Homo sapiens: one gene and its partners. The protein of the gene in region 1 purifies or fractionates together with the protein of each later gene. This does not show direct contact. Each region holds a gene or a part of one and is shown in the gene's direction. Other genes may lie near its edges.

Evidence for each region.
Region 2: the proteins of ASB11 (region 1) and ERLIN1 purify together in Homo sapiens (affinity purification with mass spectrometry, with the first as the bait; one large-scale study listed by BioGRID). This does not show direct contact.
Region 3: the proteins of ASB11 (region 1) and PSMB2 purify together in Homo sapiens (affinity purification with mass spectrometry, with the first as the bait; one large-scale study listed by BioGRID). This does not show direct contact.

What each region holds. Positions count from the first base shown.
Region 1 is NC_000023.11:15,291,618-15,295,270, reverse strand, and holds part of ASB11 (ankyrin repeat and SOCS box protein 11), read left to right. Parts: intron 1-1,950; coding exon 1,951-2,101; intron 2,102-3,653. UniProt on the Homo sapiens protein: Substrate-recognition component of a cullin-5-RING E3 ubiquitin-protein ligase complex (ECS complex, also named CRL5 complex), which mediates the ubiquitination and subsequent proteasomal degradation of target proteins, such as BIK, DIRAS2 and RPN1.
Region 2 is NC_000010.11:100,172,459-100,176,111, reverse strand, and holds part of ERLIN1 (erlin-1), read left to right. Parts: intron 1-41; coding exon 42-167; intron 168-1,830; coding exon 1,831-1,904; intron 1,905-3,653. UniProt on the Homo sapiens protein: Component of the ERLIN1/ERLIN2 complex which mediates the endoplasmic reticulum-associated degradation (ERAD) of inositol 1,4,5-trisphosphate receptors (IP3Rs).
Region 3 is NC_000001.11:35,603,424-35,607,076, reverse strand, and holds part of PSMB2 (proteasome subunit beta type-2), read left to right. Parts: intron 1-1,794; coding exon 1,795-1,844; intron 1,845-3,653. UniProt on the Homo sapiens protein: Non-catalytic component of the 20S core proteasome complex involved in the proteolytic degradation of most intracellular proteins. This complex plays numerous essential roles within the cell by associating with different regulatory particles.

The sequences.
Region 1 (3,653 bases):
AAGAGATCAAGACCATCCTGGCCAACATGGTGAAACCCCGTCTCTACTAAAAATACAAAAACTAGCTAGGCATGGTGGCACGCGCCTGTAGTCCCAGCTTCTTGGGAGCCTAAGGCAGCAGAATCTCTTGAACCCAGGAGGCGGAGGTTGCAGTGAGCCGAGATCACACCACTGCACTCCAGCCTGGCAACAGAGCAAGACTCCATCTAAAAAATAAAAAAATTAAAAAAAATTCTTTTTGTATTTGTCTTCCCTAATGGAATTCAGCCTACTCAAGGAGAGGCAATTGTTCAGCCCACTCAAGGAGAGGCAATTGTCTTATCATTGTTTCCAAAACATTAGCACCTAGTAGATGCTCAATAAATGTTTGTTGACGTGAACTAAGAGAAATTTATAGGAAATCGCATAAGAAGACAACTTCCTAGACTGAGGGTGAGGATGAAACTTAGTAAAACACAAATCAAACTAGTCCTACCAAATATTTTTTAGTAAAAATATAGAAACCCCTAGCAATATAAATTTACACACATTTTCCCCTGACCTTGTCTGTCTCTGCCATCTTAGCATATTATCTTTAACTTTCCAATTTAATGGGGGTTAGGCTGGGTGTGGTGGCTCACACCTGTAATCCCTGCCCTTTGGCAGGCTGAGGCAGGAGGGTCATTTGAACCCAGGAGTTTGAGACCAGCCTGGGCAAGATAGCTAGACGCTGTCTACAAATAATTTTTCTAAATTTGTGGGTCATGGTGGTGCACGCCTGTAGTCCCAGCTGCTCAGGAGGCTGAGGCAGGAGGATCATTTGAGCCTAGGAATTCGAGGCTGCAGTGAGCTATGATCATGACACTGCACTCCAGCCTGGATAGCAGAGCAAGACCCTGTTTCACGGGTTATATTGCAACTCTGGAAACAAGTCTTTTTTTGTGTCCAAAGCAAGGACATTTAGAATCCTGATTATCACAAGCATGCATCCTTAGTTGTTGAAGCAAAATTGTTTCACATCACAAACTTGACTGTCCTATATTTCAATGGCATCAGAGGCTCCCTACCACTCCTGCGGTTCCCGATGTTCTTTCCAATCTATTGCTGATACACAAAGATGTCTCCCAGCCCTGCTGGTTCTCATGTGCTTCCCACATCCCTACAAGGTACCAAAGATGGTTGCAGACACCATGTTGATGGCTATTTTCTTTCCTTTTTTTAAATTTAATCTTTTAATTTTATTTATTTATTTTTATTTTTATTTTTTATTATACTTTAAGTTTTAGAGTACATGTGCACAACGTGCAGGTTTGTTACATATGTATACATGTGCCATGTTGGTGTGCTGCACCCATTAACTCGTCATTTACATCCTAATGCTATCCCTCCCCCCTCCCCCCACCCCACAACAGTCCCCGGTGTGTGATGTTCCCCTTCCTGTGAAACCAACCCAAATGTCCAACAATGATAGACTGGATTAAGAAAATGTTGATGGCTATTTTCTATGTCCCTTTGGCTTGGTCATGCTATCTCTAGAAGTAACAGCTGGCATGTGTAATTTGCATGGATTATAGTAGACCAGAGAGGAAGTTGTGGCAAGAAAGACAGTAGATCTGTGGAGAATTGCCAAGGATTTTGTAAGCATGGATTTTGGGACCACAGCCTGCCATGTTTGTTCATGATTCAGAGGGGAGTCATATTAATGGAAAATGGAAAATGGAAATAATTGTTGTTGCAAATGCTTATTGAGTGCTTACTGGGTGACATGTAATGTTTTAAGTGTTTACATATAGTAACTCGCTCGATCCACCCAATAACTTCATGAGGTTTCATAATACTGTAAAGATGTGGAGTTCCCTCACTTATTCACCAGCGTGGGGAATTCCTCTAGGCAAATACATAGGAAGACATACTTGGAGATGGTGAGAATGAAATAACAAATCCTTTGGGTCTCTCTTTGCCCATCATTAGGTCAATGGAGTGACAGTTCACGGAGCCACACCCCTCTTCAATGCTTGCTGCAGCGGCAGTGCTGCATGTGTCAATGTGCTGCTGGAGTTCGGAGCCAAGGCCCAGTTGGAGGTGCACCTGGCCTCGCCCATCCATGAGGCAGTGAAGAGAGGTAAATGAGCCACCACAATGCATGTGAAACATTGATGGGCTCACTCCAATCTGTATGAATCAATGGTCTAGTGTTAGTCATTCAAGGGTGACCCTGATCTTCCTCACCATTAGAATATGTGTGGCCTAGAAATCCCACAGCAGTAACTTCAATTTGCCTAAATCTTCAGGAAATACCAGTGTGGCACAAAAGAGCCCTACTTATAACTTCGGAATGCTTTCCTGACTCCAATTTCCCATTTCCTGGGGATGGTCTATTGGCAGGCCTTTCCAGATCCTCTTTGCTGGTGTTTTGGTGGCAGCTGGTACAGCCAAGGCAGTAGTTCTGACTTCCCTGAATTGTACTATGCTTATGTCTCTGTCCTTAGTAGGCAAGAATAGCTTATCCTCTAAAGCCCATAAAATACCAACCACTAACCTAAAATAAACTATGAAAGTATCTGAAAGCCAAGGCTGATACTATCTCTAATGGAATAGTAAATATAACCGTTCATAATAAGTTACACAATCTAGATGGGCTGATGACTTCAAGGTCATAGTTATTGAAAAGAAAAGGCTGCAACTTTCCAAAGTATAGCATTGGTAATCTTGAAGCTGACTCTAGACTCCTGTGTTGTCAGTTAATTTCCAAGTGAAGGAAAATAGTAAATTTAAGGAATTTAAAGACTGTATGTACAGACTAGACCTGAACCGAGAAGATGCCACTGAAAGGAGAAGGCCATTTGTCAAAGGTCACACCCAAAGAGCAACATTTTGATGATAGCAAGTGAGGGAGTTGTTCTCTTATACTGAGATCAGAAATACAATGGTGAAGTTAAAACACTCTAGAATAGTGATCTTTGCTGGTGTAACTGGAGATGAAATATTTTATTTCAAAAAGCAAAAGTGAAAGATTTGTTCCAGGTTATTAAACATGTCACTTGCCAATTTTTTCCAGTGGATTACTTTAAATGATGCAAAAGACCCAAATCTAAATTTATCTATGTATTTTATGTTCTAAATGTATTTAATACATATTTATTAATTAATAGCTGATGTTAGTCATTTCCCAAACATCATGTAAGTCCTTTAAGTTGTAGAGTAATGAACTACTTTGGAAATGATATAAATGTCTTTCTTTCTTTTTTTTTTTTTTTTCGACAGAGTCTCGTGCTGTTGCCCAGGCTGCAGTGCAGTGGCATGATTTCTGCTCATTGCAACCTCTGGCTCCTGGGTTCAAGCGATTCTCCTGCCTCAGCCTCCCAAGTAGCTGGGATTACAGGTGCCCGCCACCACAATTGGCTAATTTTTGTATTTTTAGTAGAGATGGGGTTTCACCATGTTGGCCACTCTGGTCTCGAACTCGACCTCAGGTGATCCACCTGACTCGGCCTCCCAAAGTGCTGGTATTACAGGCATGAGCCACCGTGCTCAGCCATATAAGTCTTTTTTTTTTAATTTTTTTAAATTTTTTTTTTATTTTTTGAGACAGAGTCTTGCTCTGTCTCACAGGCTGGAGTGCAATGGCACAATCTCGGCTCACTGCAACCTCCACCTCCTGGGTTCAAGCAATT
Region 2 (3,653 bases), on another chromosome or scaffold:
ATTGTTGGGTAAAACAAACATGGGTTGTACCTCTCCTTCAGTGTTTGATATCGTGAGGAACTATACTGCAGATTATGACAAGACCTTAATCTTCAATAAAATCCACCATGAGCTGAACCAGTTCTGCAGTGCCCACACACTTCAGGAAGTTTACATTGAATTGTTTGGTAAGTGTCTTAATTCTTATGTATGTAAATAGCCAATTGGAAATCTTTGTTCAGCTTACTTATTGAGGTTATATTGGTAAACCTTAGTGCTATTTAAGCATTTCTTCTGAATTTATCATAGAGCAATTGTCTTTAAAATATTTTTTATCTTAAGTTTAAAATTTTTTATATAACTTGTTAGAGATTGGAAAAACTACTCAGACTGTATTCTGTTTTTACTGTAATAACTTAGTGAAAATTAGCTTTGTTGATGTTTTAATAGATAATTTGAAAAATTTAGAAACCTGTGTCTTGAGGCTCCCATTTTTGATGATTTGGTAGGAGACTGACAGGACTCAGCACATAGTTGTGTTCACAGCTAAGATTTATTACAGCCAAAGGGTACAAAGCAAAATCAGCGAGAGGCAAAGGCACACCAGCAAAATGCAGAGGAAAGCAGGTGCAGGCTTCCAAGAGTCAAACATGTGCCTAATTCCCACAGCAACAAGCTGTGACAACACATGTGAAATGTTGTCTACTAGGGAAGCTCATTGGAGACTCATTGCCCAGGGTTTTCACTGGGGGCTGATTATGTAGGCACCCTCTGCCTACCACATAAAAATTCCAGACTCCTGGAAGGAATGCAGGTGTTTGGCATAAGCCACATTGTATAAACAGTTCACAGCAAGTCAATTGTATTAGCTCTGGGGATAGTGGGACCCTTCTACAAATCCAAGTTCCTAGGTGCCAACCAAGGACGAGTTTACAAAAGGCCTTTCTAAGGATTGCAGTATCAGCCCTGCTTTCTTAACTCACTTCTGTACAACTTACTTTTCATTTATGATAGTGGAAGTTCTGACCAGGGAATGAGTTGTTGCTGTTGGTAGCTCACTTTTCCCTCCTGAAATTTTTAGTGAATTTCTAAGATGAAGGAATAAGCAAGAGTAATCAATTTAAAATCTACCAATTGAGTCCTCTTTGGTGATTGTCAACCACTGAAGTGGCATGTGAGGAAACTGATGGGTCCTGCTTTGTCTCACCACCAGTCATTTAAATAGCGAAAGTACCATTGAGGTGAATAGAAAGTGCATAGTTACAAGCCCAAGTGTTCATGCTGTGTATATTTCAAATACTTTTCTATGAGCTTCTCTCTCTGTCTCTCTCTCTCTCTCTCTTTAAATCCAAAATAACAGTGAGGCTGAGATCCATGGAAATGAAGTTTAGTTATTTGGGAATTTGAGTAAAGATTTACTGAACATAGAAATTTGTTTTTCTTTGAGAATGAGGATACATATTGAGTAAGAGCCCTGAATTAAGATACTAGAGATCCAGATTCTCCATTTATTAGATCAACATATTTTACCCAGTAGTTGTTTATCCAGTAAATAAGTCTAATAAGTTACCCAGTAAAAAAGCTTATCCATAGTTAAGTAATACATTTAGTGGGTAAACTTATTGGATAAACAGACTATCTGCTTGTCATCTTCGTTCCTTAATTTCTTTATTAGATAATTCCTTGCAATTTTTTTCCCACACAAAAGGGAAGAAAAGGCAGTTTAAGCTCTGTAAAAGAATAGTACTGTGGAAACTTTAGGTCTAATAATGATTAGTTTTGTTTCATTATGAATACAATGTAAAAAAAATTGACTATCATGAGATCTGTTGTTCTTGGCTTAAAAAACAGATCAAATAGATGAAAACCTGAAGCAAGCTCTGCAGAAAGACTTAAACCTCATGGCCCCAGGTCTCACTATACAGGTAAGTTCTTTTCCTAGGGAAGTTCTCTGGGGATTTTGAGAGCTTTGAGTTTGTTCCTCCTTTCATTGGATTGTTTTATTCAGCAATTATTTGAGATGCTATGGTGATTTATAGAATACCTTTCTCAATTTGACTTTAGATCTCTGCCAAAATAAAATACTCTTGTAGCTTACTATGGGTGACATTTGTGAACTCCTAGAGGGAACTGATAAGCTGAGGCTCTTACAAGGAAGTAAAATTCATATTTCTGCCATGTATGAAGCATTAAGATACAGTAATGGTTATAAATCAGTGTAAGCATAATCCCTGCCCTCAGTAAGATTATGAAAAGGGAGTTCAAGTGTAAAATTTGAACAATCCTGGACAAAATAGTTATCACAAAGTATTAATTGACAGATGAATCTATTGAATGATTATTGCTGTAAGAGTAAGAGAACATTGGAAGACAGTGTGTCTAGGAGAGGGCTGTGATTGAGTTGAGATTTTAAGTAGGTTTGGAAAAATTAATTGGATTTAAATGGGGGAAGAATGAGAAAGGTATTTCAAGTGGGAGGGACAGCCCTAGTAAAAACAAGGTAGCAGGTGAATTTAGTGGTAGTGGTGATGGTGACGTTGGGAAATAGAATGGTGAGAGGTTTTACCCCTGCTTTTTTTTGGGTCACTGTGTTTTCCAGATTGTGGGTTGTAAAATCAACTTTAGTGAGTCATGAACAGCATTTTAAATAAAATGGAATAGAATAGGAAAAGAAATGGTATGTAATAAGTTTAAATATTCTGTGACACTTGTGTTTCACAGTGTGGCGGGGTAGGTGTTTATATTGGACGTCAGTGCAAAATGTGTTTCTTACTGTGTCCACTGTCAGTAACATTCGAAAGCCACTGCTCTGGATCCAGATGACCTAAGAAGTTATATTGAGGCTTCTCTAGTGTCCTTTCTCAGGAGCTCTAGGAGACCAGTTGATTGTTGATTGTTGTGATGAACATTACTGCAACTAAAGCTTATCACATGTCTCTCAATTCTTTACACTCAGCACCACTGCTACTGAGAGTGTGCGCTCACTGTGATTGTATGTGTTCGTGCTTCTCAAAAACAAGACTGAAAGATAGGTGGGGTTTTCCTCATGGCCTCATTCATGCAATGTCATTATCTCAGGCGCTTGAGGGTGAGCCACCAGAGTTAAGGGGTCGTTTGAAATGTCCAGAGGTAACTTTGTAAAATCCTCTGAGTTGTTCAAGTCAGTTGTAGCTGGAGTAGCTTTTTAGTTTTAAAGATAGTGAATGTGAAGGTCAGCTCTTAGATTCTGCCCAGGGTGTTACTCAGAGATCTAGCTCATTCAACTGTTGTTTAGAATTCCTTGCCTTATATTACTTAGCCATTTTTCTGTTCCCAGTTTTTTGCTATTAAACAATAGTGTAATGAACATTCATGACACATGTTCTTGTATGTACAAATTATCTTTCAAACTGACTGTACAAATGTACATTCTTAACAGCAATATGTGCAAATAATTGTGACCCATGAACTCACCAACATTGGAAGCAATCAGACATACTGATTGTTACCATATGGATGGGTGGGCAATTATATCTCCCTTTGATTTGCATTCCTTTGGTTGTTAATGAGGTTGAACATCTTTTGATACATTTATTGGTCATTTATACTGTCTTCTGCTGATTGCCTATTCATATCTTTTGCCCATTTTTCTGTTGGATTGTTTTCTTTCTTACTGATTTGTTCTGTATAAATTT
Region 3 (3,653 bases), on another chromosome or scaffold:
AAATTGAGGTCTTTGATCCATTTTGAGTTGAATTTTGTATAGGGTAAGAGGTGAGGGTCTGGTTTCATTCTTCTGTGTATGGATATCCAGTTTTTCTAGCACCATTTATTGAAGAGACAGACTGTCCTTTCCCCAATGAGTGTTCTTGGTACCTTCATCAAAAGTCAAATGTAGATATGTGGCTTAATTTCTTAATTTCTCTATTCTGTTTAATTGGTCTATGTGTCTATTTTTATGCCAGTAGCATACTGTTTTGGTTACTACAACTTTGTGATATATTTTGAAGTCTGGTAGTGGTATCAACTACCAGATTTGTTCTTTTTGTTCAGGATTGCTTTAGCTATTCAGAGTCTTTTGTGGTTCCTTACAAATCTTAGGATTTTTTTCCATAATTCTGTGAGGCATGTCATTGGCATTTTGATAGGGATTGCATTGAATATATAAATTTCTTTGGGTAGTGTTGTCATCTTCATAATATTAATTCTTCTGATCCATGAGCATGAGATGTATTTCCATTCGCTTGTATCCTCTTCAGCTTATTTCATCAGTGTTTTATAGTTTTCGTTATAGAGGTCTTTCATCTCCTTGGTTAAATTTATTCCTAGGTATTTTATTTTCTTTGATTTTTGTGTCTATTGTAAATGGGATTGCCTTCTTGATTTCTTTTTCAGCTAGTTTGTGTATAGAAATACTGATTTTTGTATATTAATTTTGTATCCTGCAACTTTATGGAATTCATTTATCAGATGTGAGAGTTTTCTGGTGGGGTCTTTAGGTTTTTCTATATAGAAGATCATGTCATCTGCAAATAGGGACATTTGACTTCCTGCTTTCCAATTGGGGTACTCTATTTCCTCCCCTTGCCTAAGTGCTCTGGTTAGGACTTCCTAGACACAGGGATGCTTTTGTGCTAAGTTCCATCTTCTGACCCCAGTCCTAACCTCGACTTTAGCCTCTGTGGGCAGTGGGTACTTTGGAATTCTTAGCTTTTACAGACTATAGATGAAGCACAGATAACCACTTCTCTCCTTACATTCCATTCTTCACTGTCAGTATCGTAAGAATCTGGCATGTTCATTCTTTTTTGGTGCTGCCCTCTCGCTCAACCTTAGCCACGCTAGAGCTCCAGGCCACATCCTGAAAAGAATTAGCCTGGCCTCCCAGTGACTTTCTTGATTTGGCATCTGTCAGTAATACAGCTGATTTGCCCACCAAAATAACTACTAGCCACCCCTGAAGCCTGAGTGCATAACATGTCGTCCCAGTTTGCCACGCCCACAGACAGTTCCTTTGGCTCCTATTTGGGGAGAGTCTCAGCCCCATCCTATGAATTCTCTTCCCATTGTTAAACAGAGACCCAGCTGGGAAAACAAGGCTGAAATTCTGACCCCATCGTCTCTTTCCCTGATTTGCAGCTGACTGGGGCAGATGGAATTGATTCAAACCCTGGACTAAGGGGGAGTGAAAGGGGTGGGTTATGATAAAGAGAGACAGGCTGCTGGACTTCTTCAGAGGTGGGCCCTGGCCAGGGGAGGCAGAATTCCTTCATGCTCACCCTTTACTGTAGCAAATCAATTTGCAATGGCTTATAGCTGCTGGAGCACTGGGTCTGGGGCCCCCCCAGCTGCATGTGGAGTAAGTTGATTGCAGGCTAGAAGGCAAAGCATTTTTTGCCTTTTACGTTTGTGTGGCACTGAGACCTGAAGAAGCCAGATTTGGAACTTAATCAAAAGCTTCTGAGAGTTGGATATAATGACAGCACCGGAAGTATTTGGTCTCTGTGTTCTCTTTCAGCTATCTCACGTGAGAGGGCAGTGGAACTCCTTAGGAAATGTCTGGAGGAGGTGAGTAGTTCCCATAGGATCCTGAAAGGAATGTTTGTCTCTCTGTTTGCCAGTGTTGTTCCTGTTCCTCAGTTATATTTTTTCAGATTTTTGCCAGAAGGTGTAATACATACCCACTAACCAGATGTGAAGTTGCTACCAGGGATAGAGTTTGGTGTGGATAGCAAGCTCACTTTTCTCTCACAGATTACCTCCTCAATGTCAGTTTTATAATTTAATTCTTTCTGGTTTATCCAAACCAGTGGTTCTCAAATTTTAGTGTGTGTAAGTATCACCTGGGAAACCTGTTAAACAGATTGCCATCTCTGCCCCAACCCTCAATTCTGAGTCCACTGTTCTGAGGTACAAACTGGGAAGCTCTGCTTTAACTGGCAGTCCCAGGTGATTTTCCTACAGGTGGTAACTGAGGCTGTACTTGAAGAACTTCTGCTCTAGACTTTATTTTTTTATTTGAGACGGAGTTTCGCTTTTGTTGCCCAGGCTGGAGTGCAGTGGCACGATTTCAGCTCACTGCAACCTCCGCCTCTGGGTTCAAGCAATTCTCTTGCCTTAGCCTCCCGAGTAGCTGGGATTACAGTTGCCCACCACCATGCCCGGCTAGTTTTTTGTATTTTTAGTAGAGACAGGGTTTCACCATGTTGGCCAGGCTGGTCTTGAACTCCTGACCTCAGGTGATCCGCCTGCCTCGGCCTCCCAAAGTGCTGGGATTACAGGCATGAGCCACCACGCCCATCCCTGCCCTAGACTTTATACCTGCTCTGTTCTTGTGCCACCTGTAATTGCCATACTGCCTGCTCCCTTAATAGTGCTCGAGTCTTTGTAATCTGTGAGAAAAAGCCTCCCCTAAGAATTCAGGAGGACCATAGAAAGCAACTAGGAAGCTTTGGGCAGAAGGGGAGAGTAGACTTTGGCTTGCGAGGACAGGATTACAGAACACACCCTTTCTAACACTACTCCTTAGAGTCTAAGGCTTTGGGTATAGATGGAGAATGGGGGAATGGGGAGGTCAAAAACCAGCCACATTAGTTTTTTTCATTCTTTTACTGTTCCTGTGGCTTAAGGATGAACTTGACCTCGTGGTTTAGTAAGAGAGTAGGAAGATAAGAGCAGGAGCGTTGGGAGTAATGTCAGTTTGCTTCTTACACAAACCTTTTGTTTTCAGTCCACAGTGCCCACCCCACCCCCCGCTTTTTTTTTTTTTTTTTAAGAGATGGATCTCACTTTGTTGCCCAGGCTGGAGTGGAGTGCAGTGGCACCATCATAGCTCACTGCAGCCTGGATTTCTGGAACTCAAGCGATCCTCCCAAGTAGCTGAGACTACAGACAGGCACCACCATGCCCAGCTCATTTTATTTTTAAGAGATGGGGTCTTGCTATGTTACCTAGGCTGGTCTTGAACTCCTGGGCTCAAGATATTCTTCCACCTCAACCTCCCAATTACAGGCCTGAGCCACAGCTCCTGGCCTCTGCTTCGTTCTGAGGACAATCACTCTTTGTTAGCTTATTATCTTGAGACATTTTAAGAGAGACGTCTGTGTTTACCAGACTGATGGGTAACAGACTATGGGGAACAGAACACTGGATTGTCTCATTCTTTCGTCAGCTGACTGACCAGAGACAGGCTCTTAGTTGCACCTCCCAGTTCAGCCTCCCTGCCTCCCAGTCATCCTCCAGCTGCTGTTTGGGTACCCTCTACCACTAGAGTACTAGTGCCCTACTGCCAACTGCCTCCAGTAGAATATCAGTTCCACAAAAGCAGGGATTTTTGTTTGCTTGTATCCCCAGTGTCTAGAACAGAGCCTGGCACAT